Homo sapiens: one gene and its partners. The protein of the gene in region 2 interacts with the protein of the main gene of each other region in a pairwise test. Each region holds a gene or a part of one and is shown on either strand. Other genes may lie near its edges. The genes, in order: DOCK1, ELMO1, ZNF398 and DOCK4.

Region 1 (5,625 bases), on a different chromosome or scaffold from region 2:
TTGGAGCTGAACGGCATGACGGGGGCGGACGTGGCCGATGTCCCACCCCCTCTGCCTCTCAAAGGCAGCGTGGCAGATTACGGGAATTTGATGGAAAACCAGGACTTGCTGGGCTCGCCAACACCTCCACCTCCCCCTCCACACCAGAGGGTAAGTCGGCAATCTGAAACACAGGCTTTCATTGCTTCGCCTCCACAAAGTAGGACGAGTCCCTCATTCCAGATACTAGCAGGTTTACTTCGGGCTAGTGAGCACATGAGGAAAACCATGTATGATGGGCCCGGGTTTGATTTTGCAAAAAGATATCGAAGCAGTAAGGACTCCAGTGGGTAAGATCTGTGGCTCTGCGTCATTATCAATAACTGCATCAAAAAGCACATTTTGATATCATGCCTCAGAACGAGGAAGAGGATAGACATTCCAAGGTTGTCATCGGTTATCATCACCATGGAGATCATTCCACTGGAGATGCAATTCTAATGACATTTTGATTTTTGAGAAGTAGCTTTTCTATCAAGAGGTCTGACTTTTTAAAGAGGTTGGCCAATATCGCCCTGTATGGCAGGCACCTGTTGTACACCTGCTTGGCCCTGGAGAAGCTTGTCTCCAAACATCCCTCCAGGCAGCCTCACCTGGTGCTGGGAGCTCCTGGGTGGTGACAGGCACTCACCTTACGGAGACTGCAGAGGACAGCCAGGTTTGGCTCCTGGGCACAGTCATCCTCACTGTGCCCCCACCCCTGGGCACCCTCCCCAGTGCTAGTTCGGGGGTGCTGACCTGGCTTCCTCCAGCAGCACTGGCCTTTGTAAGCCTAAGCAACCTGCTGGAACCCCTCTTCAGCGTGAGTCCCTGAAGCTGGTACCCCCCAGCAGCTGTTTTAGTCATTCATGCCACCCAAAGTGCCTTGTGCCAAACAGCCCCTGGGCCTGCCTGCCCGTACAAATATTAGTCAAAGTCATGAAAAGCCATTTAAACAAGCACCTCAGTTACCAGTTGACAGTTCTAGAAACATTCTTTTGAGATCCACCCCGTTCCTCTCCTGGTTCTCAAGGATGCTGTCAGGCGTCACTCATCCCTGCGGGTCCCAGCCCCATCCTCATGTCGGGCCCAGGCATGTGTGGAGGGCAGCATGAGTGGGATGGAGGCGGGCGAGCGATTGACTCAGCCACGGCGGGAACTTCTGCTTCTAGGCTCAGGCCTCCCCAGGCCATGTTATTCACAGCCTTTGACAATTAAATCAGTGGTGTCTGAAGGGTAAAATATCCCTCTTCATATGTGGACAGCTGGCCGTATTTTTTTTGCTATCCAGCCTTAGTGAAGTAATTATATGGCCGCAAAACTCCTGTAGAACATTGAAAACATGAGATTGTTGGGTGGCTCTGTTTTTTTCATAATGGTGAGACATGGTTTTTTTTTTTATTTTTCTTTAATAAACAATATAAATCCCACGTGCCATTTCTTTTTCTTTTTTTTTAATGGAGACTCGTTGACGGAGTGTTCCACAAGGTCATTACATCCCTTATGAGAGGAGTGGAAGAGAGAGGGTGTTTGTGTACAGCATACGTATTTCATCATTCCCTTTGTATCAGAAAACTAAACAAGCAGTCATCTTTAATATCAAAGAGGCAGATTGCTCTTCTGAGACCCAAGTGCCATTTAAACAGGCTCCCTCTCCCTAGAGACGCCTCGATGGGGAACCGGTCCTGGAGGAGGCACCAGGTTCCCCTGTGAAGAGGGCTTTCTGGCAGGCTGGAATGGTTTGTTGCACCACAGAAATGGAAGCCGGACCTTCCCCGGCCATTTCTAACTACTTGTGAGAGTAAAAGGAGATTCGGGGGGGTCTAACAAGAATATTGGGTTGCTTGGAGTATTGTTTCCCTAACAGCTTCGTTAATTGGTCACATTCTCTTCTCTCTATTTTATTGCAAAGGCAGGAATGTTCCCCCTAGTCTCCCTACACTAGTAAACTGAAAATTCTAAACTTAGAATTACAGCCAATTCCTCTTCTTGTTACAAATCAACTCCGGGGTAACATTTTATTGTCTCAATTTCTTGGATACACCATTGTGGGTTACTGATGCCACATACAGTTGATTAAGTAAGGGATAACATGGATTAGCTCTCTCTCAATTGATAAAGGGCGTGTGAATTCAATTAGATTAATGACCCAGGTGTCTTTGGTCTTTGTTTCTTGTTTAATTTACTTGCAGCCTGAGTGCATGCTCAGGTGACACGCTGGTGGTTAGTATGTCATCATTAGGCAGAAGCGGTTGCATTTCCTGGGGTGCCTCCCTTTGCACAGGCCCTGAGAGCTGTTCTAGGATAATGATCATCCATCTGCCATGATGGGGGTGTGATCAATATCCTCCTGTCACTCTCATTGATCAGCCTCAGGCTTGTAGGCAACTCTGTCTTTAGTTGTTGCCACTAAGCTGTCATTTCTTTCCAAATGGCTCTTCCTGTCAGTAATCTGAGCTTACTGAGTTTATCACCATTAATCATTTTGCTTAATGGTGATAAACTTTTGACATGCTCATACTTGGCATAGAGGTCATTTGCAGCGCTGTGTTGGTATCAGGCTGTGTTAGTGTGGTCCTTACCTGCTCCTCATTGGCCTATCAGTGAGTGTGGCTTTCACATGTAAACAAACAGTTTCATCAGACCTCAAAATAGATGTCTCTTTTAACGGTTCTAACCAACCTTAAAAAGACTTAATTGTTGTTTTACCTTCCTTAATATAAGGTCATACACTCATAGGACATCTTTATATCAGCTTTACTTTTCCACATTTATTCTCCTCTCTGTGTTAAGCATTAGGTCATTTTTGTATTTACTAGTCTGTGAATCAGGAGGAAATCTGGGCGATGAGTGAGAGACTACTGCGTCACTGTCTATCCTTGAAAACCTCTTTTCTCACATTCAGCTAAATGCAAACCCACACTGAGAGGCTGATAAAAATCCACTCTTACCCTTAAGTTAGACGATAGTGTTCTGTGATTTCATTCTGGTTCTTCTGCCTGTGGCATGCTCCCACTTACCCTGGTCTGTTCACTTCTTCATTCATTTGTTTACTTACCTGTTCATTTCTTCATTTATCCACTGACTCGTTTATTCACTCATTCATTTATTCACTCATTCATCCATTTTTCTATTCGATTGACCCATATTTCTAGAGAGTCTCCTGCACATCAGGTGTGTGTGATGGGCATGAGGGTCCCAAAAGCAATAGGGTGCAGCTGCCCTCAGTCATAACACTCCAGCCAGGTCCATCAGCAAGGGGTTTGCTATTATCTTCACATTGGAAATTAATGTTCTTTTTTGGAATCTAAAGTAATATATGCCCATGAGCTGAAGCCAGCCAGCCAGCCACCTGTTTCTGTGAATAGTTTTCTTGGAACACAGCCACACCCCTTTCTGTACACACTGTCAATGACCGCTTTTCGGCCACACCAGTGGCATTGAGTGGCTGCAACAGAGACCGTGTGGCCTGCCAAAAAGCTGGAAATATGTACTGTCTAGCCCTTTCCAGGAGAAGCTTGCTAACCTTTGCCCGAAGCTCAGAAAGCAAAAGAAGGTCTCTCATCTCACCCCTGGAGAGTGCCTCTAAGGACTTATTTATCCCTTAGACAATAGATGGATAACTTGGTCGATAGCATCTAGATTTAAAAAGGCCACGCAAAGGGCAATGGTACCTCTCAGGGGCTGTGCAGACGGTGGGAGAGTGCTCAGAGGCGTCAGAAAGGCCCAGGCCCATAGCAGCCCAGTCTTGAGCCTAGTAGACCTGCCAGCCCCAAGTCGGACAGGATGGAGCCCAACTCATGTGGGGAGGATGGTTCCGGCTGAGTGGCTGTGCCAGGTCAGACCCCACCTGGAGACGGTGTCTTTTCTGTCAGGACATCAGTTATGTGACATCTTCCCCATCCTCATGTTTTTTAGCATCTGCCACCTCCACTGCCCAGCAAAACTCCGCCTCCTCCCCCTCCAAAGACAACTCGCAAGCAGGCATCGGTGGACTCCGGGATCGTGCAGTGACGTCGCAAGCCTCTCTGGAAAGAGTGTGCTGCCCCTCCCCATCTCCATGCCCTCTCCTTCTGTGTCCCCTGAGTCTGCTGTTTACCTCATTGGGCCTGTGATGTTAACATTTCGTGCGACTGCTTTTTCTTCAAAGGAGTTCAGTTCTCACCATGGAGTGAGTGGCCTTTAGCGTCATGGAGCAAGGTGGGTCTGGGAGGTAGATATGGGTCCGGGATGTGCTATCGTAGTTATCAGAGTTGGGGGCCTCTGAGTGTGTCTGGCTCTGAGAGAGTCTGAGTCTTGCCCAAACATTCTTTCTTTTTGTGCCAAATGACTTGCATTTGCAAAGAGCTCAATTGCTCTGAGCTCAGCCAAGTAGGAGAGGCTAGGCCATCACTCTTAGGAAGCTGTGTAGTGATGATGTATAAGAATCCTCCTCACTGTCATGGGATGTTGTATCCAGCCCCTCCTTGTTCCAGCCGGTGGTGTGACTTCGTTGGTTGAGGTGTGTCTCCAACCTACATCAGACCATGAAGTTCAACCCCTCCAGGGAAGCTCCTGATTTCCCCTGCATAATTGAAAATAGGATATTTCTCAGCTATTGAACAGTTACTAATTTATGGGGTGGAAACAGCATTAAGAATACTGAATCAAATGGAAAAACAAATGAATACAGGAAGATAAGTGTTCGTTCTTTTCTGAAAAAGAGTATGTGTACCACAAGAGCTGGTTTTAATTGGGTGAATTGTTTTTGTCCTCATTCTGTACAGAAATTTGTATATATGATGGTTCTTAGAACTTGTTTTAATTTTTGTGGTCCTTCCGTTTATTATAATAGGCGTCCACCAATGATTATCCATATGTGTTCTTAATTTTTAACTGCTGGAAGTGTTAAAACACACACACACACACACACACATTTTTTTTTTGAGAACTCCAAAGTCCTGAAAATTTTGGTGGACAATGATTTTTAAAAAACTAACTTTGTATAACCTAATATTTGTATTCTCTCATCTATATTTTTTTATTCACTATAATCATGATACTCTTCTAATAGACTTAAAAGTTAATCATTGACAACGAAAAATAAAATGTTATTTTAAAAGACTCACAGTGTCTGACCAATTATGTTTTCATCCTTGATTGTAAAATACAGACGCTGCTGTTTCTGTTCTGCTATGTTAAAGTGCTTGGTGACACACATTTATATATGCACCTCTTCCTCCAACATTGTTTTTAATCCTCTCTGTTAATTGTGTCTGATCTGGAGCCCAGATGGGAAGTGCCCGTGTCCCGTGCATGGCTGCATGTCCTGATAGACAGGAGCTAAGCAGAGACCAGCTGAGTGCTTCCCCATCACCAAAGCCAGAGGGCTGTGGGGCTGCAGATCATGTGGGCCTCTTTTCAGCTGCTAATTTAAGAAAGGGCTTTGGTTAATGGGTGTGTGATTTAGCTGTAGAGGTCTGGACATGGAGAGCTTTCTCCAGGGCCTATCTGGCTGGATCTGGGGTGGCAAGAAACAAGGAAGGCAGGGGGTTCTCTTCTCAATGGACGGGGCTCTCACCTCTGCTCCTGCCAGACGTGTGGAAGCCATAAGGATGTGCCCTCTGC
Region 2 (5,495 bases):
CTGGTATGATGGAGTGTTCCAGGTTTATCTTTATGTTTCCTGCCTTTTCTCTGTGAAGCCTTGATTACTTGTAGTGGGAAATGATATTTAGTGACCAGAATCTAAGCATGAGTTGTGTTTATGGTCATTGCACACCACGATGCAGTGGTTCTTGGTTGGTCATTATTTTTTAGCCCTTTTTGGGGACAGAGCTAGGTGGTTTTCTTTTAAGATAAACTAATGAATTGATACTGATAGTTCCAACTCAAATTCAGTATCAGTACTACAGGGTTTTTATTTATTGGTCGATGTACTTTCACATAAAATTTTCTGTGCCTGTTGTTTCTAAAAAGAAACGTGCTGCAGAAGTGTTCCTGTGGGTTAAACTAATCTATACTAGGAAGCTAGCCAGGCCTGGGAAGGCTGTGTGAAAAGAACAGTAATCCCCAGGACTTGGGGATTTACCATGAAACAGCATGAAAGCTGGAAGGGGCCTTTGAGAATGTAGAGTTCAGTGGCACCCGTACCTGCGTGTTCGTTAGAGTTTTCTAGGAAGCAAAGTCTCCTCACCCTAGATCTACATGATCAGGATCTCCAAGGTAGGAGCTAGGTGTCTACTTCTGTCAAGGTTATTTATGAAGAAATTGATGGTTAGACATGTTCAGAATCAGATCATGAGGACACTAATTCTTCCGGAAATCCCTTAACACTAAATTGATGTTTCGATGGGTTAAATGCTTTGGCTGAGATCACATAGCCAAGGTAGAACCAAAGCCCTCCAAATCAATGCTGCCCTCCTGAAACACAGATCTCATAATACACCCATTGTGCATCTCCTCAGCTTAAAAAGGAGGACCGCTGATGTGCATCACGGAAGATTTCCATCACATCATGGTGACTGGAGATTTATATAGTGCTTGCAGTATACTTTGGTTACTTTTACGTTGAGATCTGCTACCATGGAATACAGTCCAGATAACCACAGTGCCAAAGTAGGTTAAAGAGGGTCTGGAATTGCCGCTTGAACTAGTGAGGCAGAAAAGTTGGGAATCTGGAGTGCATGGTAGAAGGAAGACCACTTCAACAGAAGAGGAGAACAATTGCTGTTATAGAATCCTATATAGGACTACTAGAAACCTAAACTCCAGTGCATGAGTGGAGCCCAGCATCCAGAATGCCAAGCAGCTTTCTGAGATGCTGGCATCAGGGGTGCCTCTTTCACCAGGTGTCATGGTTCTCTGTCCATGTCAGTACAGAACTCCAGCCTCTGGGAGGGGAAGCTAAGAAGAGAAAAGCAGGTCCTCAGACAAGGCACAGTTCTTCCTTCTCCCTCACAGAGATCATAGTCTCCTGGAGAGACAAAAGGCTATGAAAGGAGAAGAATCAGACTCTTAGTTGGGTACTGTGAAGGGCTTTCCAAAACAGATAATATCCCCAAGTATGAGGCCCCAGAGACCTGGTGAAAAGAAACCTTAGGAACTAGAGACAAAGGCTAAAGAGGTCCCCAGACAGGCAGCCAACCCTCCTCCCATTAAGATTGCCCAATAATTTTAACCATTTTGGCTGCCAGACACTGGGCAGCATAAGCCTATTTCCTAGCCCTTTAGCTGAGAAACACCAAGGTGGGACTGCCATTGGCCATTGGCTCCAGGGTGGGACAGGGCTGTCATTGTGAATGCTAGGATCAGACAGGACAGGCCGAGATGAGCTACTAGACTAGGAGCCATGACTGGAGTCAGCAAAGAAACCTGCTTCACCTGATGTTGAGTCCAGGGCTGTTCGGTAGATTCCACCAGTACCTAAAAGTCATAGACTCCCACCTAGGTGTTACATTGCAAGTCATGGAGAACTCCAATCCTCAGCTGTTACAGAGAAGCATTCTTTGCAAAGAAGAGCACAGGCACTGGAGTCAGATTGCCTGGGTTCAAATCCCACCCGGTCTACATAATACTGAGTCACTTCTCTGTACCTCAGTTCCTTCACCTATAAAACAGAGATAACAGAAGTATCGACTTTATATTGAGATGTCGCCAAATATGAAATGACGAAGTAGGCAGAGCCCTTAGCGCACAGCCTACTGAGGGATGAGTATTCACTGTTAGCTATTTTTACTATTAATACTTCTGTAATTGCCACCAGTAATGATCGCTGTTGCCTCCCTTCCTGCCAGTACTGTATCTGGACGGATGGACTGAATGCGCTACTCGGGAAGGACATGATGAGCGACCTGACGCGGAATGACCTGGACACCCTGCTCAGCATGGAAATCAAGCTCCGCCTCCTGGACCTGGAAAACATCCAGATCCCTGACGCACCTCCGCCGATTCCCAAGGAGCCCAGCAACTATGACTTCGTCTATGACTGTAACTGAAGTGGCCGGGCCCAGACATGCCCCTTCCAAAACTGGAACACCTAGCTAACAGGAGAGAGGAATGAAAACACACCCACGCCTTGGAACCGTCCTTTGGTAAAGGGAAGCTGTGGGTCCACATTCCCTTCAGCATCACCTCTAGCCCTGGCAACTTTCAGCCCCTAGCTGGCATCTTGCTCACCGCCCTGATTCTGTTCCTCGGCTCCACTGCTTCAGGTCACTTCCCATGGCTGCAGTCCACTGGTGGGACAAGAGCAAAGCCCACTGCCAGTAAGAAGGCCAAAGGGCCCTTCCATCCTAGCCCTCTGCAGGCATGCCCTTCCTTCCCTTGGGCAGGAAAGCCAGCAGCCCCAGACTGCCCAAAAACTTGCCCACCAGACCAAGGGCAGTGCCCCAAGGCCCCTGTCTGGAGGAAATGGCCTAGCTATTTGATGAGAAGACCAAACCCCACATCCTCCTTTCCCCTCTCTCTAGAATCATCTCGCACCACCAGTTACACTTGAATTAAGATCTGCGCTCAAATCTCCTCCCACCTCTCTCCCTGCTTTTGCCTTGCTCTGTTCCTCTTTGGTCCCAAGAGCAGCAGCCGCAGCCTCCTCGTGATCCTCCCTAGCATAAATTTCCCAAACAGTCCACAGGTCCCATGCCCACTTTGCGTCTGCACTGTGATCGTGACAAATCTTCCCTCCTCACCAGCTAGTCTGGGGTTTCCTCTCCCTGCCCCAGGCCAGAACTGCCTTCTTCATTTCCACCCACGCTCCCAGCCTCTTAGCTGAAAGCACAAATGGTGAAATCAGTAGTCTCGCTCCATCTCTAATAGACTAAACCTAAATGCCTCTAGGACGGACTGTTGCTATCCAAGCGTTTGGTGTTACCTTCTCCTGGGAGGTCCTGCTGCAACTCAAGTTCCACAGGATGGTCAAGCTGTCAGACATCCAAGTTTACATCATTGTAATTATTACTGGTATTTACAATTTGCAAGAGTTTTGGGTTAGTTTTTTTTTTTTTTTTTGCTTTGTTTTTGTACAAAAGAGTCTAACATTTTTTGCCAAACAGATATATATTTAATGAAAAGAAGAGATACATAAATGTGTGAATTTCCAGTTTTTTTTTAATTATTTTAATCCCAAACATCTTCCTGAAAATAACATTCCCTTAAACATGCTGTGGAATAAAATGGATTGTGATGATTTGGGGAGCTGGTGTTTTGATTTAGTAACTTAGGTTCTTGCTACTCAGTCATCAGCATCACCTGGGAGCTTGTTGGAGATGCCAGCTCTTCAGCTCCACCCTAGACCTGCTGAATTGGGTGATGTTTATGTACATTGGTTTGAAAAACACTGCTGTGGGAAACCCTCCACCATTGCTAGGTCACCATAGGCTCTGAGCATCAGTGGAGAATGTTACTTCTAAGAAGACCATCTCGACTCACTGAGAAAATCAGACCCACTGTATGAAAATATCTATTCCTTTTACATTGCTGTCTCTTGACCATGACTTTCTCTTTTTTCTTTCTTACCATGATATAATTTATAGAATGGGTCTAATTAAAGACATCACAACTTTGAGGGAGCACATTTAGCAATGAAAAGAATGCATACCCACAGACCTGAAATAAGCCAGAACTAAATAAATCTAACCGTGGGTTAATAAATTATAGGTCAGAGCCCAGCGAAGGATGTTTCTTAAGTCATTTGCACTGGAGGCATTATCAGGATTGTAAACTCCCAGCACTGGGAGGGATGTCAGAAGGGTCCAAGCATGCAGTATTAAGCGTGGCACAGCACCAGCCACTCTGGCCTCACAGCACAAGCTGTGGAAGCATCCAGGTCATTTCTCTTTACCGTCATCAGGATGTGCAATTACAGATTGACCTGGGTTGAGATGATATGGTCCAGAGCACTGCATGCATTGCAGGAAAAAAGTCCTTTGCATTCACAGGGGTTCCTTCTTCCCATCAGAGCACTCACACCTGTGTCAAGCTGTTAATTCCTTGATCATTAAGCTTCGATGTTATTAACATGTACTTGCTATCAGGAGCAGTTATTAATCTACCCATCATCATGATAAAACAGTAAGTGTTAGGTCAAAGGCAGCAAACAAAGTCATATTATTTTTTTCTTATGGGTTACAAGATCCAATCCATGAAAAAGGGAACTTTCTGGACCAGGATCTCTGAGGTCCTGAGACACTGGGTTTAAGAAATGTATCTGTCCTGTGACCTTGGTTGGGGAGATCCAGCCCCTCTCTCTTCTGGCACTCCAGCTTTGGTGCATTTAATAGAAAGAAACCTTTTCAGGACTATGAAAGGCAGCATTCTCCAGCTCCTCCCTAGACCCTCCTTTGGACCTGTGAGATCTGAAGAGTATGCCATCTGTTTCCATTCATTTTGTGACCATGTGGGGAAGGATTGTTGCCCATATTTGGCCACCTCACCTTCTCTCTCCAGGCTGCCCAAGGCTTTTTTTCCCATGCAATGAGCCTACCACCTCCAACTCATCTCCTGTTGCCTGCAGTTTCCTAAGCCTGGGCAACTCAGCCAAATCCAAGGCAGAAGTAAAGTAGGAAGACTGATGTTGTCGTGAAGTCCAAGTTGCATTCTGCTATTCATATTACTCAAAATAAAACTGATTACTTAATTTGAATCTGCTGATGTTTAAATTCCTCTCTTATTCTTGTTCAGAACACATAAGAGGAAGGAGAATTAACTGGCCTCTGAAACCTCTGTGACAACATTTAAGGGCAGGGAAAGCTAATAGTAATTGCAAAAGAAAAAGTGCAAGGCTGAATGTTTCTTGAGTCTATTTGCAAGTCCGTTCTAAGCCATCCTTCAGTTATCACCTACAGCATGTCCTGTCCACCTGCTTTTACAATGAACAAAGCAATGGGTGTCCCCAATGACATGCATACCAGTCATCCATTTTGTTTTAGTTATGAAAATACAATTAACACAATCCTTTCATTTTAAGGGGAAATGAAATATCCATTCAATAATCAAAAGTGTGCTTAGAGATAGGCCCTAGGAACTCAACAAGAACAAAATTTGTAAAATTGAGATTTGTAAAAATGAGAACAAAATTCATCAAATCAGGGAAATGACAAGCAACTTAGTCAAATATAAAACCGAAAAGTTGCAGCACAGTGT
Region 3 (7,036 bases), about 110 Mb from region 2:
AGAGAAAGAAAGAAATACACTGAGCACTAAAGTCAAAGAACGAAACTTTCAAGCATACTAGAAATAACAGCCATGAAACTAGAGGCAGCAAGAGTGAGCTAGAAAGGGAAAGGAAAAAGATTCAAAGTGAACTGGATGGTTTACTGTCAGACAATGAAATTCTGAGACCAGCTATTGAACACCACAAAGTGCCCTTAGTAAAAAAAGATCATATATTAATATGTAAGGCACCAGATGCCAAGGAAGAAGGTTGTAAAAGACTTCTGGCATTACAGGATGAAAAGCTAGAATTTGAAAACAAGTTAGCAGATAGAAAATGAAAGTGGATCATGATGTCTGCAAGCAATGTGAAAAGCATCAGTGTGAAAAGAAATTGTGGGAGGCCGGGCACGGTGGCTCACACCTGTAATCCCAGCACTTTGGGAGGCTGAGGCAGGTGGATCACGAGGTCAGGAACTCGAGACCAGCCTGACCAACGTGGTGAAACCCCATTTCTACTAAAAATACAAGAATTAGCGGTGTGTGGTGGCGGGTGCCCGTAATCCTGGCTACTTGGGAGGCTGAGGCAGGAGAATTGCTTGAACTCGGGAGGCAGAGGTTGCAGTGAGACGAGATCGCGCCACTGCACTCCAGCCTGGGTGTACAGCGAGACTCTGTCTCTAAAAAAAAAAAAGAAAAGAAAGAAAGAAAATGCAGAGGAAGAAAAAAACGAAAATTTTGACCTGGAATAGTAAATCAGTAGTTTTCAGATCCAAGTTACCTCACTTGCAGAGTTCGAACCGAATGCTGAAAGAAACGATGGAGACATTAAAACAGGAATGCTGAAATATAAGAAATCAAGCTGAGAAAGTCTAACTAGAAGTCAAAAAGACATTGGAAAAAGAACAGACACAGCAGTTAGAAGAAAAGCATATGCTTCATGAATGTATCTCAGGGAAATGTACAGTCAAGCTAAAGAGAAATTGCAGTGAGCTGCAGTTGCCCAGAAAAACAGGAAATCTTGCCGTGAAAACAATTGAAGAGATGGCAGGACAAGGTGTAAATCTTGGAGGCAGGTAGAGAAGAAATGGAAACAGAAAATTGGGTTTTAAATAGACAAAATGTTCCATTTGAAGAATGTACAAAGCTTCAGAAAAGACTAAAGGATACACACAGAAGACATAATGAATTTTGAAGTTTAATTTTGGTTCCTAACATGCCTCCAAAATCAATCCTGTTTGCTCTCAGTCATCAGCCATGGTATTATCCTTTCCTCCTCATGTGCACGATGAACAGCATCAAAGGGAACTCTGTACTTGGCAAAAGACTAGAGGAACTAGAAACAACACAAAGAAAACAAATAGAGGAATTTGGATCTCCTGGAGAGTGATGTTCTTAGAGAAAAGGCATTTTAAAAGAGGTGAAATCAAAGACTCAATAAAGCTTGAAGTTTTAACATACATGGTATTTAGATATTTTATTACTGCTTACCAAAATACTCGAATGTGCCTCAAGAAAAGGTACCAGCTTTATTTAAGGGACTCGTGCTGTATTGCATGAGTACTAGGATTTTAGGATTTTCTAATGACAAGTGAAGCATTAAAAGAAACCATTTCAGAGATATTTAGAATATTTATTGACCACCCTTTGAAAATGTAAAAAAAATAAAAGGAACTAATTGGAAAGAGATTTATTGAATGACTGAATTATAATGGAAGGGACTAACCCATGTGATTGTAATTTTAGGTGCCTGTGGCATTTGATGATGTCTCCATCTACTTTTCCACTCCAGAGTGGGAAAAATTAGAAGAATGGCAAAAGGAACTTTACAAGAATATCATGAAGGGCAACTACGAGTCTCTCATCTCCATGGGTGAGGCTGAGTTGACACCTTTTGAATGAAGTGACAGCAGCTCCAAGAGGGCTCAGAACAGTCCCTTTTCCTCCAGTGACCTCATTCTCACTCTGTCTTCACACACTTCAAATTCTGGTTTCAAGCCAAAATATGACCAATTAATGCTTGCTAACTAGGAATCATAATCTCTCTTTTTACCAAATTGTAGGACAGAGAATGAAGTTCAGGGTTATGGGTGTGACAGCTGGTGGTTTCCATGGGTATCCTTCACTTGGAAAGGAGCTTGACTTCTCCCCCTTGAGGCACACTGTCACTCTGAAAGCAGTGCTAACCTAGCACATGTGCTTTCCCCACACATTACATCTCCACTGCCTGCTTTCCTGAATAGATATCCACAGCTGAAGATGGATAGATGGGAAGAAGTGATATGAAATCTAAAAGAAATTCCCTGGCACTGTGACCACAAAGCTTCAGCTCAGCCTTGATGGCAATTAGTTGTCATCCTCATTTATCTCTTTGTAATACTCTCTCTTCCTTTTTCCTCTCCTAGATTATGCTATAAATCAACCTGATGTCTTATCTCAGATTCAACCAGAAGGGGAACATAATACAGAGGACCAGGCAGGGCCAGAGGAAAGTGAGATTCCCACAGACCCCAGTGAAGGTAAGTGGGAGAAGAGATTCCTACTTCTTGTCTCCCTTTCCTGGTCAGACATGGTGGCTCAGAGCTAAGCAGGGCTTAGGGGCTTCTAGAGCCATTCATTGCTAAAGCAACTAGATTTTGAATGTGTCATCAGGCATTTAAATATAAAAGGGAGCTTAGAGGTCACCTTGTCCAGTGTCTTCACCTATCAGTACTACACACCTAACAGTTACAAGTTGCATTTCCTGACAGAAGTACTGACACCTAGCTGTTTAATAAAATAAACATGTCCTTACATGATGAAGGAGGCAGTCATGCTCATCTGGACTAAATTGGCTTGAGCAAATATAAGCATGGCCCTTCATAAGTGCTGAAGGGACTAGGAGTCTGCATGGTCCCTCTAAGATGCATGGAACCAGTAGACACTGATGACATCCACCTGGGCAACATGGATTTTCTCAGGTCTGGGAAGCTGGCTATCATGAACTCTTCCTAACTTTTTGGTTGGCAGCTGCTTAACATTGTGTGGGAAAGACTGCCAACCAAAGTCCAGTTTTATTGTTTCTCTCATGCCTCACCTTGCTGTCAGAAAATTCTCATACACTTTTTTGTTCTTTGATGGATAGAAGCACACAGAAAGTTGATCCTCCGGGCATCTCTATTATATGAACTTCTCTTACAACCCACCCGCTATCCCATATAGTTATTTTTTTCTTTTTCTTTTCTTTTTTTTTTTTTTTTTTGAGACGGAGTCTTGCTCATGCGATCTCGACTCACTGCAAGCTCCGTCTCCTGGGTTCACGCCACTCTCCTGCCTCAGGTTCCCAAGTAGCTGGGACTACAGGCGCCCGCCACCACGTCCGGATAATTTTTTCTATTTTTTAGTAGAGATGGGGTTTCACCATGTTAGCAAGGATGGTCTTGATCTCCTGACCTCGTGATCCACCCGCCTCGGCCTCCCAAAGTGCTGGGATTACAGGCCTGAGCCACCGCCACATTTATTTTTTTCTAACATTTTATTATGAAAATTTTCAATCAGAAAAGTTAAAATATTTTTATAGTGAACACCTGGATATCCAGCGCCTAAATTCTGCCACTAACATTATACCATCCTTCCTTATCATGCATATATCTATCACTGCATCACTCCATCCAGCCATCCGTCTATTATTTATTTATTTATTTTGGAGATGGAGTCTCACTCTGTCGCCCAGGCTGGAATGCAGTGGTGCGATCTTGGCTCACTGCAACCTCCACCTCCTGGATTAAAGTGATTCTCTGGCTCAGCCTCCTGAGTAGCTGGGATTACAGGTGCCCACCACCACGCCTGGCTAATTTTTGTATTTTTAGTAGAGACAGGGTTTCAGCATGTTGGCCAGACTGGTCTCGAACTCCTGACCTCAAGTGATCTGCCTGCCTTGGCCTACCAAAGTGCTGGGATTACAGGCATGAGCCACCGCACCCAGCCATCTATCCTATTTTTGATGTATTTCAAAATCAGTGAAGACATCAATGCATTTTCCTGTAAATAGTTCAGCATGAATATTATTAACCTAGAGTTCAATATTTGTTTTTTTCTTTTCAGGTAAATTTTACATATAATGAAATTTCAAGTCTTAATTGAGTTTTAAGCAATGTACACATCTGCCTCACATTTATTATTATTATTATTATTTTGAGATGGAGTCTCACTCTGTCGCCCAGGCTAGAGTGCAGTGGCGTGATCCTGGCTCACTGCAACCTCCGCCTTCCAGGCTCAAGTGATTCTCCAGCCTCAGCCTCCTGAGTAGCTGGGATTCCACGCCCGGCTAATTTTTGTGTTTTTAGTAGAGATGGGGTTTCACCATGTTGGCCAGGCTGGTCTTAAACTCCTGACTTCAAGTGATCCACCCGCCTTGGCTTCCCAAAGTGCTGGGATTACAGGAGTGAGCCACCACGCCCGGCCATATTATTTTTTAAGAATGTGTAGGTGATTGCATTTAGTCAGTGTAACACGTTGCATTTTACTAATCTTTATATCACAGATATAAGTAATGAGGCTAAAATAATACCACCAATAAAGATGAGTGACTTGACTACAGAAAGATTTCTTATTGGGTATATTTCTTTGGTCTACATTATTAGTTATCTGTCATAGACCTCAGCAAGTACAAATGAATATATCATTGTATTTTATGGGATGGGTGAAAAAGATAACAAGTAATTAGGTTTTGTGATAACGTATCAAAGTTTCATTTTGCTGTTATCTTGTCAGTTTGTTTTTACCATGGGTTTTCAAGATGCTCATGCCTCAACCCCCTGAGTAGCTGGGACTATAGGCATGTGCCACCATGCCCAGCTAATTTTTGTATTTTTAGTAACGATGGGGTTTTGCCATGTTGGCCAGGCCGGTCTTGAACTCCTGACCTCAGGTGACCCACCCACCTCGGCCTCCTAAATTGCTGGGATTACAGGCATGAGCCACCGTGCCTGGCCTGTTATTTTCTGTTGGTTGATCAAATTGTCAGCTTCACAATTTCTTTCGTTTGTTTGTTTGTTTTTAAGACAAGGTCTGGCTCTATTGCCCAGGCTAGAGTGCAGTGCCATGATCAGAGTGCAGTGCCATGATCTGAGATCAGTGCAGCCTGTGCCTCCTGGGCCCAAGCCATCCTCCCATCGCAGCCTCCCAAGTAGCTGGGACTACAGGCACACACCACCATGCCTGGCTAATTTTTGTATTTTCTGTGGAGATGGGGGTTTGCCATGTTGCCCGGGCTGGTTTTGAACTCGTGAACTCAAGTGATTCACCTGCTTCGGCCTTCCAAGGTGCTAGGGTTACAGGCCTGAGCCACCACACCCAACCTCAGTACTTGTTTTCTTAAAAAAAAATATGCTCCTGGCTCTGTTGGAGGGCCCAAAGACCACTCCCAGATTTCGTGATCTGCTAGGAGGACTCACAGGATTCCCATATGGTTGTACTCACAGCAAGATTTGTTAGAATGATACAAAGTAATATCAGCAAAGGGAAAAGGTACCTGGGACAAAGTCTGCAGGAAACCAGGGACAGGCTTCCCAGAGTCCTCTCCCAGTGGAGTCTTATAGGATATGCTTAATTGTTCCAGTAATGAGTTGTAACAACCAGAAAAGCTCATTAGAGACTCAGTGCCCAAGGTTTTTATTGGGGGCTAATCACATGCATACCCTCTGTCTAGCACTTACCCAAATTCCAGACTCATAGAAGGAAAGCACGTGTTCTGCATATACCACACTGTTTGACAAACACAATCATGCGCTGCTGAACAATGGGGATATCTTCTGAGAAATGCATCATTAGTTGATTTTGTCATTGTGCAGACATCACAGCGTGAACTCACACAAACTAGATGATGTAGCTTTCTATGTACCTAGGCTATATAGTATAGCCTATTGCTTCTAGGCTACAAACTTGTACAGCATATTATTGTCCTGAATACTGTAGGCCATTGTAACACAATGGTAATTGTGTTTGTAAACACATGTAAAGATAGGAAAGGTACAGCAAAAATCTGGTGTAAAAGATACAAAATGAGCTGGGCACAGTGGCTCATGCCTATAATCCCAGCACTTTGAGGCCAAGGCGGGTGGATCATGAGGTCAGGAGATAGAGACCATTCTGGCTGACACGGTGAAACCCTGTCTCTACTAAAAATCCAAAAAATTAGCCAGCCATGGTGGTGGGCGCCTGTAGTCCCAGCTACTCGGGAGGCCAAGGCAGGAGAATTGCTTGAACCCAGGATGCGGAGGTTGCAGTGAGCCGAGATTACACCACTGCACTCCAGCCTGGGCAACAGAGCGAGACTCCATCTCAAAAAAAAAAATACAAAATGGTACATCTCTATAGGGCACTTGCCATGAATGGAGCTTGCAGGACTGGAAGTTGTTCTCACTGAGTCAGTGAGTGAATGTGAAGGCCTAGGACATTACTAGGCTGTAGACTTTATAAACACTGTATACTTAGGCCACACTAAATTTATAGAAACATTTTTTCTTTTTTTTTTTTGAGCCTCCTGGGTTCAAGTGATTCTCCTGCCTCAGCCTCCTGAGTAGCTGGGACTGCAGGCACGTGCCACCACGCCCGGCTAATTTTTTTTTTTTTTTTTTTAGAAGAGATGGGGTTTCACCATGTTAACCAGGATGGTCTCGATCTGCTGACCTCATGATCCACCTACCTTGGCCTCCCGAAGTGCTGGGATTATAGGCATGAGCCACCGCGCCTGGCCAAGAAATTTTTTCTTTAACCATAAATTAACCTTAGCTTACTGTATTACTTTATAATACAGTAATATACTTATAATACTACTTTATAATATAGTAATATACTTTTATTATTTTATAACTTTCTGACTTTTGTAATAACACTTAGTGTAAAACATATTGTACATATATACAAAAATATTTTTTCTTTATACCCTTTTTCTATAACTTTTTCCTATTTTTAAATTTTTTTACTTATTTTTTTGAAATGAAGTCTTGCCCTGTCGCCCAGGCTGGATTGCAGTGGCGCAGTCTCCGCTCACTGCAACTTCTGCCTCCTGGGTTCA
Region 4 (6,869 bases), about 75 Mb from region 2:
CAGGGTATTAAACACACAGACTAACATTTTAATCAGAGCAAGAAGAAAATCTCTTAAAAGAAGCAGTTTTCAAGAAGTCAAAAAGGTGTATGTTTTTTAAAAATTTTATTTTTATTATACTTTAAGTTCCAGGGTACATGTGCACAACTTGGAGGTTTGTTGCATATGTATACATGTGCCATATTGGTTTGCTGCACCCATTAACTCGTCATTTACATTAGGTATTTCTCCTAATGCTATCCCTTCCCCATCCCCCAACCCCACGACAGGCCCGGGTATGTGATGTTCCCTGCCCTGTGTCCAAGTGTTCTCATTGTTCAATTTCCACCTATAAGTGAGAACATGTGGTGTTTGGTTTTCTGTCCTTGCGATAGTTTGCTCACAATGATGGTTTTCAGCTTCATCCATGTCCCTACAAAGGACATGAACTCATCCAAAAAGGTGTATGATTTTTACAGGGAAAGACATACTTGATAACCTAAATGACTGCCTAACAAAAAATATACTTTTAATATAAATATTTACACCTAAAATTTATATCACACCTTGTTGGCTTTGAAAAGATTTTGGAAAAAGTAACAGAATGATACATAGGTTATTAAGCAGAATTTTTAATGACAACTTTATCTTATAAAAATGACATAAAAAATCAACCATTAATTTCTCCTGTTGACTGCTACAAGTCAATGAGAATACTGGGTATTTCTCACCGAGGGTGAGAAATTTTTTTATGTTATAGATACCGCAAATTCACTACTACTCAACACTTTTATTGAAAACAAACTGGAATCAAAAACTAAGCTTTCTATCAGTTACTTAATTCAATCTACTAGTCATTGAAACATTGGTCCTGGATTATTTCCTCAAAGTTTGTGACAATATGGGGGAAAGAACACTCATATACTACAGGTGGCAATGTATGCTGAATATATTTTAAGAGGAAAGTCTGGCATCTGTCAAAATTTTAAACTTGCATAACCTTTGATCCAGCAATTTTCTCCCAAAATATACAACCAGTGGGCAAGAATATATGTACATAAAGTTGTTCATTGCAACATTACTGAAAAACTAAAGTCACACTATATGTTCATTTATAAGGGAATGGATAAAGAATGGCACAATCATATTTTGGAATATGATGGGCACAGTCCTTAAAAAAAAAGGAAACAAATGTACTGACGTGGAAGGGTTTCTATGATAGACTGCTGAAAGAAAAAAGAAGGTTGCAGATCTTTCAGTTTATATAGATTTATCCCTTTTTATTATAAAAATCAAATCATAGGCCGGGCGCGGTGGCTTACGCCTGTAATCCCAGCACTTTGGGAGGCCGAGACGGGCGGATCACGAGGTCAGCAGATCGAGACCTCCTGGCTAACACGGTGAAACCCCGTCTCTACTAAAAATACAAAAAACTAGCCGGGCTTGTTGGCTGGCGCCTGTAGTCCCAGTTACTCGGGAGGCTGAGGCAGGAGAATGGCGTGAACCTGGGAGGCGGAGCTTGCAGTGAGCCGAGATCGCGCCACTGCACTCCAGCCTGGTTGACAAAGCGAGACTCCGTCTCAAAAAAAAAAAAAAAAAAAAAAAATCAAATCATACAGACGTGTGTCATATAAGAATATGGTGGTTTAACAGAATACGGATTGTAGGATTAAAAAAAAAAAAAGAAGAAGAAGAATATGTTGGAAAGAATATGTACCAAACTCTTATCACTTAATACTCGGGGAGTGGTGCTGTGAGGTGAGGGAATTTTCATTTTTTTTACTTCATACACTTCTGAATGGTTTGAAGTGCTTTTAAAAACTTTTAAACTTGTAAAATTTAAAAATAAATATTTTTAAATATTTTACATTTTTGAAAGGCATATCCTTTTTTTTTGTTTTGTTTTTGATACAGAGTCTTGCTCTGCCTCCCAGGCTGGAGTGCAGTGGTGGATCATGGCTCACCACAACCTCCGCCTCCCGGGCTCAAGGGATTCTCCTGCCTCGGCCTCCCGAGTAGCTGGGACTACAGGCATCCGCCACCACGCCCGGCTAATTTTTGTATTTTTAGTAGAGACGGGGTTTCACCATATTGGCCAGGCTGGTCTCGAACTCCTGACCTTGTGATCCACTCGCCTCGGCCTCCCAAAGTGCTGGTATTACAGGGGTGAGCCACCGTGCCCGGCCATTTTTTAAAATAAGTTAGACTGTGAGATAAATTCACCAGTTTAGATCTTAAACTGGTAGCCCTCTGGAACTTTGAAAATCTAGGAAACCGTAATAGTCTGTTACCATCAGATAGCCCAATATATAACCAACCCAAAAATAAACCATTAGGGTGTTAAATTCAATATTTAACTCAGGAGACTACCAAAGATTTGTTTGGTAGAGGTACTAAAATAATTTCAGAGTAGGGAGTTCCACTGTTGGGAAGTGGGAAAAAACTGCACTTCAACTCTGTGCCGCTGAGGTAAATACTTAAGATGATATCAATTTAACTGTGAAAGCAAAAACAAATAAATCGAAAAACAAAGTCGCAACAGTCTGAGAACTATATTTAAGCCCCAAACCATGTTCATCAGAAAAAGACAACTTGTGCTAAATTACACATCAAGACAAAAATGGGGTGGGGGGAATGGGGGAGGGATAGACTAAAGGTAAAAGAGTCCTAAACACAATCCACCTGCAGCTTTCAAAATTTGGTTTTTTATTCCTACAGTGGATCAGAGGACAACCTGAAAGTCAGGTACAGCCAAAGTTGTGATGGTTTTCAAAACTCTTTTCAAATGTTCTTTGAAGCCACGAGTGCAAATTATCTATCACTTTCCTTTTCTTTCTCTAAGGACCCAGAGACTGGGAAGATCTCTCAGGCTCCACATACAAATCTGAAGAACACCCAGAGCAGTTAACCATCTACAGGGAGGTTGTGAGATACACACACTTTCCCTTCAGAGGTCACCTCAGCCACAAACTGGGCAAATCTGTAGAGTGGAGAGCAGTGACCACCAGTCTGCGACTGGAAATACTCCGGAAGCTAAATAAAACACACCTGCGAGGTCAAACCAAGCAAACCAAGGCAGTGTACTGGTGAGGAGAAAGAGCTGCTAATCCCAAAATTATAAACACACGCGCGCGAACCAGATCTGAACCAAACCCACTCAGCAGCTAGCTCAAAGCTGGGAGCTCCAAACCAGAAGACAAACGCTCAGGGAGCTTCCCCGGCGGAGGGGAAGGCCATTCCATGGCATTTTCTCCGCCATCCCATGGCATTTTCTCCGCCATCCCCGGGCAGCCCCAACCAAGTAGCCGCCACCGGCTCCAACCCATCCCGCTGGGCCACCACCCGTGGGGCCCAGTCGAACCCAGGTGGCCCCAGAGCTGAAGGGCTCCTAGGGTCAGACCAGAGGTCCGTTGCACACCCGGTCATAGAGAAAGGAAGACACATCAGCCGCGCCTCCGGGGCACCGTACTCACCCCCATAACCTACACCCCCGACTGTGCTGCAGCTCCCATCACGGTCTTCCTGCATTCGGGCGACAGCCCCCTGGGTCTTGGAAGCAGCCATTACCCGGCAGAAAAGAAAAGGGAGGGCCGCAGGGCGGGTCGGAGGCGGGGTGGCACCAGTAGAAACGCTACTGGAGGCGAACTCCCCGTCGACGTAATGTTTTCTCCACACCTACGCCGCGCTCTGGACCAATAGGACGCAATCAGTAAAACTGAATCCCCGCCCCGAACCACATTTGCCGCGCCCACTTCCGGGATGGGGAGGCCAAGAACTACAATTCCCAGCGTGCTGCGGGGCCCTGGGACGGGAGGGCTGGACTAGGCGCTGGCGGGCGGGGGTGCGCCGGAGAGTGCCCCGGCGTGTTCGCTTAGTTCAGTGAATCAGAACAATGACTGCGCCGCCGGGTACCCGGGAGCGCGTCGGAGGACTGTGAGCAGCCGCCGCCGGGAGAGCTGCGGGCGGCGCAGTGTCAACGCTGGGCTCGGGAGCCTCCAGCGCAGATCCTGCCCAGCGCCCGCAGCCCGCGCGAAGCCGCTGGGCTCCGGCACTGCAGCGCTGCTCGGGGACTGTGCATTGTTGTGAGCCGGAGAAGGGGCGCGGGGATTACAAAGCCTGAAGACCCCGGAGCCCCTTTAGCCATGTGGATACCTACGGAGCACGAGAAATACGGCGTGGGTGAGTCTCCGCGGGGCGAACTTTTATTCTGCTCTGGCCCGAGCGAGTGCGCATTTCTCGTCCTTGCCCCCGCGCCCCTCTCGCTCCGCCCGGTTGAAAATGCCTAATCCTGGCATCGCGCAGCTGGTACGGGGCTTTGCCGAGCCAGCTCCAGGCAGAGGGCTGCGCACCAGGCTCTCGCCCCGCACCGCCTGCTCGGCGCGCCCCGCACTGGTTCCCGAAGCGCCGGGACAGCTTGGGGGAGCGCGCGGCCGGCCCGCTAGCTTCGGGCTCTGCCTGCGGAGTTTGGAGTGGCGACTGGGCGTGTGTGTGTGTGTGTGTGTGTGTGTCAAGTTGGAAGAGGAGGCGAATGGGGTTTCTCTCCTTCCTTACCCTTCTTCCCCAAAGCGACAGGGAGCTGCAACGGTTCCTCTGGGTGGAGAGGGAGACAACAACACTCGGGCAGAGAGAACACCCCCAAAACAGTAGGGAGGCGCAAACCCTTCCCTCTGGCTCGGATCGACATTCCCGGAGTGTGGAATGTGGCAGGGTCCTGGAGAGAGCCGCTCTGACAAGCTGAGCCCTCTCTGACCCTCCTCCCTCTCTGCGATCCCGGATTTATGGGGTGTGTATGTTGCGGGGCGGGGGCATTGGTAAATTTCAACATCTGCGCCGCTCGGTTCTTTGGTCTTTGGAGAAGAACGGGTATTTCAGCAGTGTTTTTACTTCTGGCCACCCTCTCGACCCCGGGTGAGCGCAGTGGGGGCGGTGTGGCGGTACAGGGCTGCTGAGTGATAAATGGGGAGGGGGATCGGAAAGCCTGGTTCTTGGGGGCAGGGAGATAGCTTTTAGGAAAGCATACCCTGACACTGGCGTTCGGAGAAAAAGGAACAGGATAGCTCTCGCTGTTCTGTGTAAAGGTGAACAACAAAGGACATTAATGTTGACTGATGAATACAGGAGTCTCCCTTCCTTTTCCTCCTCCCATTTCAGGCGGGTTACAGTTCCCGTTTTTGTTGTTTGATTTCAGCTGGGTCGCCCCTTGACAGTTACTCCTTTTAGGGTTGAGACTATTAAGAAGCCAGGCTCTCCGACAAGGCTGCAGCCGGCCAAATGCAATTATAACCTCCCAGAAGGTCTAACAGAAAGCATTATGGATTTTACTAACACTCTTTATTTCCTATAATGCCCTGTTCTGCCGACTGGTGTACTTTGTGTGTGTGTGTGTGTGTGTGTGTGTTTTAAAATTGAGGACAGGTCTAGTGATTTAGGTGATGTGTAGATATCTGCTTATGTTCTAAATTCATTTTCCTGCAATTTAAAACATCTGGAAAGCCTTCCCAGGGAGTCGTAGTCCGAGGGGATTTTTGTTTTTTTTTTTCCCAACTTTGCCTGGGGATAGGACTTTGGGGTCCATTGAAAGGACTGTAGGATTCAACAAAATCATTCCCACATTTCACGTTAGCTTCCATTCTGGATTGTGACTAATTACCAAGACAATAGTTTGACCTGAACCCACCTTTGGGAAAGGTTTCCAGCTTTCCCTCCTTCAAAGTGTCAGAGGAGTCTTTGCCAGCCTCTTTACTGGCAAGGAGTAGATGTTAGTAGTTGTTATTTTCGTTCTCCTCACTCTTCTCTTTTTTGGGAGGTAGATTAACCCTTGCTAGGGAAAAAGATAGTCCCTTTGCTGGACTGGTGAGGGACCCGAGGGCATCGCCTCCTAAGCGGCTTTAACACTCAGTGCAGGAAGCTCAGATCCATCCAGGCAAAACTGTCCTGCTTGGAGTCGATCCCAGATGTTGCTTTCTTCCAAGTGTTAAATTATACAGATTATGGATGGGATTTATTTTCTTGATTTCTTCATGTGCCAGGTCACAGCTGGGGTGCTGGTATCGATTAGTTCCTCTCTTGCCTTTCTTTACAAGCGGTGGGCAGAGGCTTAAAAACCACTCTGGGATTTCCTGGAATGGCAAACCGGATATTATCAGTCAAATGTTTTGGGCTGCAGCAGACACCTCGGTTTTGGGTGGTTGTGATTTGATTGCAGAGTAGGGGAGGCAGAAGGGTGTGCTCACAATTGAGAAAAAGAGGTTGAATGAGATGAAGGACGAGAGCAGAGAGAGGGTCTTTTGCCCCAAATTACTGCTGTTGTTCTCAATATCACATGTGCCAGAATGTTAATTAACCTTTATTATTAATTTTTGAGCATTTGGATTGTGGAATGCTTAGCTGTTTTTTAGAATCCATCTGTTAGGCGTGTGTGTGTGTGTGTGTGTGTGTGTGTGTGTGTGTGTGTAGTGAAATTTTTGCTAGGATACTTATGTGTGGACTTTATTTTTCACCATGGAGGGCACTGTTTATAGCTGCTTATATTGCAAGTTGTTTGTTTTTTCTTTTAACCTTGGTTAATGTTTGTGTTTTTCTCATGTAGTTCTTACAGATGTTAAAGAAAAGATCTTATGGGCACAGATCTTTGTTACCAAGTGTAGTGGTAATTTAGTTTCTTCATTCTTTGAAATAAATCAGTCTTTGTAACAGAATATGTGACGTTTTAGTATAAATTATATATTTCTGCAAAGGTACTTTTTATATACCCTCATTTATGTATGAGATAATTATGCTTTTATATACTTATGATTAAATTTTAAGCAGCATACTGTAAACATGGGTAAAATTAGTTAAATTTTATATCTGTAATTAAATGTATCGGAGATGGAAATTCTTTTTCGTAA

What was found.
Region 1: the proteins of ELMO1 (region 2) and DOCK1 interact in binary tests that used the Homo sapiens proteins (3 or more experiments, as listed by UniProt).
Region 3: the proteins of ELMO1 (region 2) and ZNF398 interact in binary tests that used the Homo sapiens proteins (3 or more experiments, as listed by UniProt).
Region 4: the proteins of ELMO1 (region 2) and DOCK4 interact in a two-hybrid assay, tested with the Homo sapiens proteins (one study listed by BioGRID).

Annotation. Positions count from the first base shown.
Region 1 is NC_000010.11:127,447,396-127,453,020, forward strand, and holds the end of DOCK1 (dedicator of cytokinesis protein 1), read left to right. Parts: coding exon 1-150; intron 151-3,936; coding exon 3,937-4,032; 3' UTR 4,033-5,121; downstream 5,122-5,625. UniProt on the Homo sapiens protein: Involved in cytoskeletal rearrangements required for phagocytosis of apoptotic cells and cell motility. Along with DOCK1, mediates CRK/CRKL regulation of epithelial and endothelial cell spreading and migration on type IV collagen.
Region 2 is NC_000007.14:36,852,406-36,857,900, reverse strand, and holds the end of ELMO1 (engulfment and cell motility protein 1), read left to right. Parts: intron 1-2,149; coding exon 2,150-2,350; 3' UTR 2,351-4,995; downstream 4,996-5,495. UniProt on the Homo sapiens protein: Involved in cytoskeletal rearrangements required for phagocytosis of apoptotic cells and cell motility. Acts in association with DOCK1 and CRK. Was initially proposed to be required in complex with DOCK1 to activate Rac Rho small GTPases.
Region 3 is NC_000007.14:149,164,433-149,171,468, forward strand, and holds part of ZNF398 (zinc finger protein 398), read left to right. Parts: intron 1-1,725; coding exon 1,726-1,852; intron 1,853-2,384; coding exon 2,385-2,498; intron 2,499-7,036. UniProt on the Homo sapiens protein: Functions as a transcriptional activator.
Region 4 is NC_000007.14:112,203,391-112,210,259, reverse strand, and holds the start of DOCK4 (dedicator of cytokinesis protein 4), read left to right. Parts: upstream 1-3,860; 5' UTR 3,861-4,121; coding exon 4,122-4,158; intron 4,159-4,191; exon of another isoform or gene 4,192-4,757; coding exon of another isoform or gene 4,758-4,887; intron 4,888-6,869. Other genes in the region: ZNF277 (zinc finger protein 277), read right to left, coding at 3,453-3,543. UniProt on the Homo sapiens protein: Functions as a guanine nucleotide exchange factor (GEF) that promotes the exchange of GDP to GTP, converting inactive GDP-bound small GTPases into their active GTP-bound form. Involved in regulation of adherens junction between cells.